Linked DNA regions of Homo sapiens. The protein of the gene in region 1 purifies or fractionates together with the protein of each later gene. This does not show direct contact. Each region holds a gene or a part of one and is shown on either strand. Other genes may lie near its edges. The genes, in order: SELL and EMCN.

Region 1 (3,826 bases):
GATTTACATGTCTCCAGGGACTGATGGCTCTAGAATGTAAAGCTTGGCATCCTGCTTGTGTTGAATCTATCACATTTAATTTCCTGTGGGTTTCTTTTTTTTTTCTTTTTCACTTTAAAGTTGTGTTCTTTTCATGTGAAGTTAAACTCACATACCTTTTTTTAATCTCCTTGCCAGCCAAATGATAAATGCCAACCCAGAGAATGCAGTAACCATGACTGCCACTGGAATGAAGAGGGGGTTATAATCACCCTCCTTAATCATTGAGAAACTTTTGTCCAATTCTGAAAGAGAAATCAGTAAGGCACATAGCATGAGACCACCAGCATTATTTCCTTAGTCTATCTCATGATATTTGACTTTTTTCCTCCTTACATCTCCCAGTAGTAGCCCATTTGATGCCATTTGACAGATGAGGAAACTGGCATGGGAAGGCCCCTGATGAGTCTACAGCATAGGCAAAGACTGGACCAGCCTTGCTAGTCTAATGCCTACAGAATCTCAATGCCCAGATTTGTGGTTCATAGAGTTCCTGAAAATGCACCTAAAAATGTTGGCAAGAATGGTCATCGTTGTATTTAGCTCCATGGACTTGTTCAATGACTGGAACTCTGAAACACAGAGAAGAGCTAAAAGCCTAATACAACTTCAGGAAAAATAAAAGCCAATGATCTGAACTGGATAATTCACCAGTCAAAGGAAATCATTAATGCTTTTACTTTAAAGCAGTTGTGCAAAAATAAGCACTTGATTTTTACATGCCAAGGACCTGCACTAATTTCTTTCCAATGCAGTAGTTACCACTTCCCTCTACTTCCTTCACGAATAAGTAAAAGGGCATGTTTAGAGATACTCTTGTAAGTGTAAACTAAGTTCATTTGGGAGCCTCTATTTGAAAATACTGGTATAAAAAAAAATCTGTCTCCTGATACTAACATTTGAAGGAATCTACTTTTTTACATATTGGCAGAGGGTCTGATTCTATCCTTAGTTCTTCCCATTACTTTGATGAACCTTTTCAAGGTGATTTGATCCCCACACCCAAATATATGATTGAGAGAAGGCTCAAGTTCCCAGGAGCTCCAGACAGAAGGTACCTGTTGGCTTGATGAAGATGAGGAGGAAATGAACACTAGCTAGGCCTTAAAGGGAAATGTCTCTGATAGGCCTAATACACAGTCCTCTGCTAAAGGCCTCCCTGCCTCTCTCTGCTCATCCACTCTACTCCCTGGCCCTGGGCACGCAGCACACAGAGATCAGCATTTCTGACAGCTTCTGTAGATCCTACCATTTAAAGACTTTTGTCATCCATGCAGATAGTCTCAGGAGCAGACACAGGTAGCTATTCTTTCACATGCTAGCTTAACATGCATTTGCTTTAGCACCTATTGCCAGGCACTGTGTCAGGTGGAGGGTATACAAAGATGAACAAGACATGATTCTTCTCATATACAGATAGATTTTGGAGGCATTAGCTTAGTGATGATTCAGGAGTATCCATTATTTGGGGAAGTAGGTGGTCATTAGTGACCTTTTACAGGCATTTCAATGGGCTAACAGAGATGTTAGATTGTAGTGGAATAGAAGAATGGGTAAAAAGTAAATCAGTGAGTTCAGATTTTAGGAGTTAAGATGGCAAGAGGTGAGAACAAAAAAAGGAAATGATTGTCATTAAAGGAGGAGGAAAGACCAGCCAAAGATTTTACAGTGAGTTAAGCATACAAATTTATTTCTAGGCCACATATTCTTAGCAAAACAACATGTAAATGTTTATGTATGTCTTTCCTCATATCTGCTCATCCATCAGCTCCATCGTTAAGATTTCAGTTTTCCAGGACAAACTTACTCACTTTGACATATTGGACTAGGATTTGACCAGATTCCAGATGATTCACAAATGGTTTTCTTCTTCCCAATTAACTCAGTTCCTTCTGAGCAGATGAAGGTACATGCAGAGGTAAAGCTGAAGCTGGCCAGGGGATGGCTACAGTTCATGATCCCCAAATCTGGTGCTGATAGAGGCTCACACTGAATCACTTCAATGAAAAAGAAAAAAAAAAAAAAGACAAAACAGTATTTCTGAGTAGAGACCCTCCCTTGAGCAAAGGATTTTTAGCCAAAGCTGCCTGACTACATTACTTGTGATATTGCTTCCAGGCTTTATTTTCTTGAGAATGATGGTGGGTGGTGAATGAGAGATGAAGGCAAGGAAGCATTGAAAGCTGTGGGGAGAGGAGTAGCTACTCCAGGCTGCTGCCCTAGCTAAGGTGACCCTCCCCTTCTGCTGGAAGTACCATGCCATATGGCCTCTGCATCAAGGGCTCTTATGGGATATTCTCAGAGAATCTCTGCCGTTTCATCTGTTCTGATATCTACCCAAGCATTTTGAAAAACATCCCAATTCACTGAAGCAAGTCCAACTTCCGTAAATTCCAGTAGGTGGGTTGACAGTTTTATAATTTCAATAAGGGATTTTGATAGCACTTCTAAGAATTAAACTACTTAAACTAATGCATCAGGAGCATACTTGTAGAAAAGTTAACCAAAACTTCGTAAGTTCAGATGACATTGGTTTTCTCCCATATGGAGATAAGGTTGGCAGTTAAAAATGAAAAAAAAAAAAAAACCTACCTTATTTCAAACTTGAAAAGATCAAGAGATTGTGTTTTTGTTTTTCAGTTGTTATTCTCCTAAAAGTTTATGCATGAGGAAAAGTAAAAGTGATTTTAAGAATAAGCCAAATAAAACAACCAAGAAAGACCTCCACTACCCTGGGAAGGAAACTGGTTGGTATTAAGTAGGACACCACATAAAACAGGTGTTATTGAGAGGAGAAGAACCAAAATGTAACTGAGGTTCAACAAGACATTATTTATGCAATGGCAATGAGAAAAATAAAAAACACAGTATAACCATGCTGTATTGCTATAAGTCATGTTACACACTGGGAGATGGCTTCAGGGGTATTTGGTTTTTACTTTTTGTTTGGGAGGTTTTTCAAAAAAATTTAGTTAGAATAAGTCCTTTGAGAAACATCACAGTAGGTTAAACAAAGTTAGGTTAAATTAGGCTCCTAAGTTTGACTTCTCAGCAAACTTCTACTGAATGTTCTGACTGTAAGCCCAGGATTGCATGACAAAACCTCTAGTCTGAAGTTACTCACCTTGACAGGTTGGTTCTGGAGATGACCAGTTTCCAAATGGTCCACAGGTGGTTTCTTCAATCCCAGTTAAGTTTGTTCCTTCAGAGCAGCTGAAGGCACACTGTGAGCTGAAGCTGAAGTTTCCCAAAGGGTGAGTACAGTCCATGGTACCCAGCTCTGGGGCCTCCAAAGGCTCACACTGAATCACTTCAATAGGGAAAGAAACAGTATGGGGAAGAGTTAAGAGGAACTGACGCCTGGATTTGAATCCTAGCCCTGCCACTTGATAACCATGTGCCTTTAAACAAGGTTACTTGAACCCTCCAACTTCAGTTTCTTCATCTATATAAGAGGAATAATGAAATTGTGTTATCTTTATCAAATTGATATGGAAACTAAATGTAATTCAATTAGCATAAGTCAAGGACCTTAGAACAAAGCCTGACTCATCAGAAATTCTAAGTAAACATTAGCTAGTCTTCATATTATTATCTTCAGCATTATCTGTAGTGAGAATCCTTAAAGCCAAATAGGTGTAACTGGGAATGACCAGCTTAGTCGGGAAATAACTATCACATCAGAGCCCCTGAGTCTACTAGAGTATTGGGAGCAAGATGTTCAGAGAAAGAGTGGGTCTCCATAATAAGCCTTCTTTGCAAGGAGAGAATATAAAAGTCTAGGAAG
Region 2 (3,826 bases), on another chromosome or scaffold:
GTAACTTTATACTATTTCCAAGCATCTGTTTCTTAATCAGTAAGATGGGATAAAGCTGGCCTTGAAATTTGTGATGGAAGTAATGTGTGTAAAGTGCCTGGCACAATAAATGGTAGATGTTAGTAGATGTTGTGACAATACTTCTTTGGGTTAACTTGGACCGTTCCCAACTGTGATCTCCATTCTCTAGTCTTTGACACAACTAATACAGGTTTCAGCTAGAGTATGACTGATTCAATGGATTTAAAAAAACAGTTCACATTTCAGTTGAGAAGTACAGAAAGAATAAAATCAATGACATCAACATTTTTTACTACTAACCTCACAGTATAATTCATTACTGCAAACAGGCAAATAATTGCCTTAGAACAGAATCTGTTTAGAATATTGTTAAGCTTATGTAACAAAAGATTGATCAAAGATATTTCATTTTCTTTGAAATGAAAAGGAAGAAGGGTAGTACATATTAATGAGAGTGTCAGAGAAACCAAAACTAATCTTTACTTAGATATACACTACCATCTAAACTAAAATGTTCTCATCAAGAAAAATAATAAATCCTGGGTTTTCCTAAATAGCAGAGCCTGAAACAAGGGCTTCTGTTCAGACAGTTTATAAAAAAAAAAATAGGAAGAGGAGAAAAGGACTAAAACAATGAAACTGGAGCAGGAATATAAGAGAAAAGCATTTATGTATTCAGTGACTCCATTCCCTCTTTTGTCAGGAGCTGTCTCATAGAATGCTAATGCTCCTGCACTTCTAGTTCAGGCATCTGATAATGCCAGATTCTGAAATGCACCTTTATAACAGAATAGCACCAGAAAGAAAGCAGGATATATGCATTAAAGTGAGGCAAGCGGCTGTCAGGTTACACCCGTGCGTAGCTGGTTGCCATAGCAATGGCTGGAGTAAACGTGGCCAGAGAAGATGTAGGGAAAGACACAACAGGAATCTAATGCTCATACGGTGACTTCTTCTACTTTGGGACTAATTATGATTATCTCTACATATATCATTCTATAGGATATGAAACCTCTATTCAAGTTTTAAAAATCTATTTTTCTTATGGTTGCCCCAAATTTGGGAACCATATAGTGCCCTTTCTAGATGTAATTGACACCACTAATGTTTCCCATGGTGTGCAATGGTACAAAAAGGATCTTGTTTGCTAACTGAGAGAGCTGCTTCTATCAGTCAAAAGGTACTGTTAGCCTAAGCTAACAGACCTATAATGGATAGGAATTCAGTAGCTGGAAAGGATTCAGTACACAGGAATTGAAAGTTACTTAAATTCCTATTCTGAGCTGGGCATGGTGGCTCATGCCTGTAATCCCAGCATTTTGGGAGACCGAGGCAGGTGGATCACCTGAGGTCAGGAGTTCGCAACCAGTCTGGCCAGCATGGTAAAACCCTGTCTCTACTAAAAATAAAAAAATTTAGCTGGGCATGGTGGTGGGTGTCTGTAATCCCAGCTACTTGGGAGGCTGAGGCAGGAGAATCGCTTGAACCCGGGATGCGGAAGTTGCAGTGAGCCAATATCATACCGTTGCACTCCAGCCTGGGCAACAAGAGCAAAACTCCATCTCAAAAAAAAAAAAAAAAAATTCCTACTCTGACATTCAGTATTTAGAAACGTGCATCTCATGTTGTTCTTAAAGACAAAGAGGAAGTTGGAAAGTGATTACTAAGAAAAAAAGAATGTGAGTAACTTGAATTAGATAATTATTCACAAGTTAAAATATTTGGCTGCAGCTTGAAATGTAACTTCACCAATGAAAAGGAAAGGATGGGCAGTTGTCTAGTAAATTCAAAGCTTTGTGAAACCCTTAAATATTCATTTTTTTCTTAGTTGTCTGGATAACTACAATTTTCAAGATAAAATTGCCAGAGAATTTGTTTCTGACAACTGTTATAAATCTTTTGAAAGTAGGAGTTCTAGAATGATCACTTCTACTTTTAGGTGGGGATTATTAAAAATCAGCAGTGGAGAAAGAATGCAAAGAAATGGTTTGCAGACTAAATACTTTTCCATTTGGATTTGTTCTATATTGGTTTAGTCTTCCTACAATAGACTACCCATTTCAGGTAAGAGATACTGGTGTGGATTAAGCTCAACAGAAGTACTTAGCAAAATTATCTACTCTGAAGCAACTCACGTTACCTGTAATGACGCATAAAGATGTATGATTTTTTTTAACTTTCCTCCAACTTCTATTTCTGTAAATTTCACTTGTAAAAAAGCCATTTTGTATTTTTGAGAAGTTGGTTGAGAATAAGGTAGCTCCTTGAATACTTTTAACTATAGGAATGTATCACATTGAGTATTTGATACCCAAAAATAAGTAGAGCTGGTTCTGTTTAGATATTCTTCCCCAAAGTGGTTATAGTTTGAGAGCTGGCTAACCTTTGATAAGAATCCCTTTCCCTTATATTTGGTGCTCACTTTCATAACTGAAATCAAAATAATCGACTTTTTTCTATATTATGTTCTCTGATTCATACTTGTCCATAACTTTTTCATAAGGACAAGATAGTAAACTATTAGGTGATTGTCATAGGAAGAAATTAAAATATGAAAATAATAAGAAGGCAACTATTTCATTCAATTATCCATTCATTCAGACAACTATGTCCTTATTATGTGTTCAGAACTGTTGCTGAGCAATCTGTAACAAATATAGCCCTTACTTTCAAGGCACTTATAATCTTGTAGAGAAATAAGACATTCATGCAAATAACTATGACAGAATTGGAAATAAGTACCTTAGGAGAGTTAGATATACGGGCATCCAGAAGAAGGATAAATTGCTTCTCTATGTTATTAATGTTACAATGGGCAAGATTAAGAAATATTTGGATTCAGGACTAAAGAACATTCACCTCTCAACATCACCTCTGGCTCCAGGGGCATACCGACTACGCATCAGACACTTTTAATTTACCATTGAACATCTCTACATAAATATCAGGATTACAAAATCACCATGTCCAAAACCAAATACCATTTTTCTCACTAAACCGTCTCCTCATATCTTTCCTAATCTCTGCTCCCAAGCCATTTTCCTATTTCTGGTATTAAAAAAAACTCTGTCTCTGCATTTCAGTCACATTCTCCTTCACTGCCAGTCAATGATATGTCAAATCACACACTTTCTACTTCCTTAAAGCTCTTCCTAGACCCTTCTTTTCATTTTATTGACACACTCTCAGACTTGCAATGACAGTTGACCTAGTTTCCTTACCTTTTATTTCTCTTGACTCCAGTAGTCTAATCTATATTCTGCTGACAGATTAGTCTTCCCATTTTATAGCCATGATCATATAATTCCCATACTCAAACCATTTACAGACTCAAACTAATTAACTATATGAGTCAATATTTCTCATCCTGGTATTCAATATCTCCTGAGGCTATATTCCAATCTTATTTCTCAGTACTTAACTATGCCCAAATTGTGACCTCTTTATGTTTCTAGACTAGAATATACCAATGTTTCAATGTATCTACTCAATAAATTCCCTTCCTCTAGAACCTCTTGATTTTCAAGCTTCAAAGCTTATAATAATTTCCACTTTTATATGTAGCCGTTTCAGATGTCCTTACATCCAAAACCAGGCTAGTTGTAAATTTTCTATGTCATTCTTTATTTACCTCTTAAAGCCTACAATATAGCCAAATTGATAATAACTTCCCTCATCTTCCTCTCTCCCCCACTTCTACGGTGAGGGTTAACTTTTATTAAGTTCTATAAACTTACGATATTTAGCATGGAGTCTGCTGATAGTGTGTTTAATCTTTCTTTTTCATGAAATTGAATGTTCAATC

What was found.
Region 2: the proteins of SELL (region 1) and EMCN purify together in Homo sapiens (affinity purification with western blotting, with the first as the bait; one study listed by BioGRID). This does not show direct contact.

The regions. Positions count from the first base shown.
Region 1 is NC_000001.11:169,701,405-169,705,230, forward strand, and holds part of SELL (L-selectin precursor), read right to left. Parts: intron 3,350-3,826; coding exon 3,164-3,349; intron 2,037-3,163; coding exon 1,851-2,036; intron 285-1,850; coding exon 156-284; intron 1-155. UniProt on the Homo sapiens protein: Calcium-dependent lectin that mediates cell adhesion by binding to glycoproteins on neighboring cells. Mediates the adherence of lymphocytes to endothelial cells of high endothelial venules in peripheral lymph nodes.
Region 2 is NC_000004.12:100,511,221-100,515,046, forward strand, and holds part of EMCN (endomucin isoform 1 precursor), read right to left. Parts: intron 123-3,826; exon of another isoform or gene 1-122. UniProt on the Homo sapiens protein: Endothelial sialomucin, also called endomucin or mucin-like sialoglycoprotein, which interferes with the assembly of focal adhesion complexes and inhibits interaction between cells and the extracellular matrix.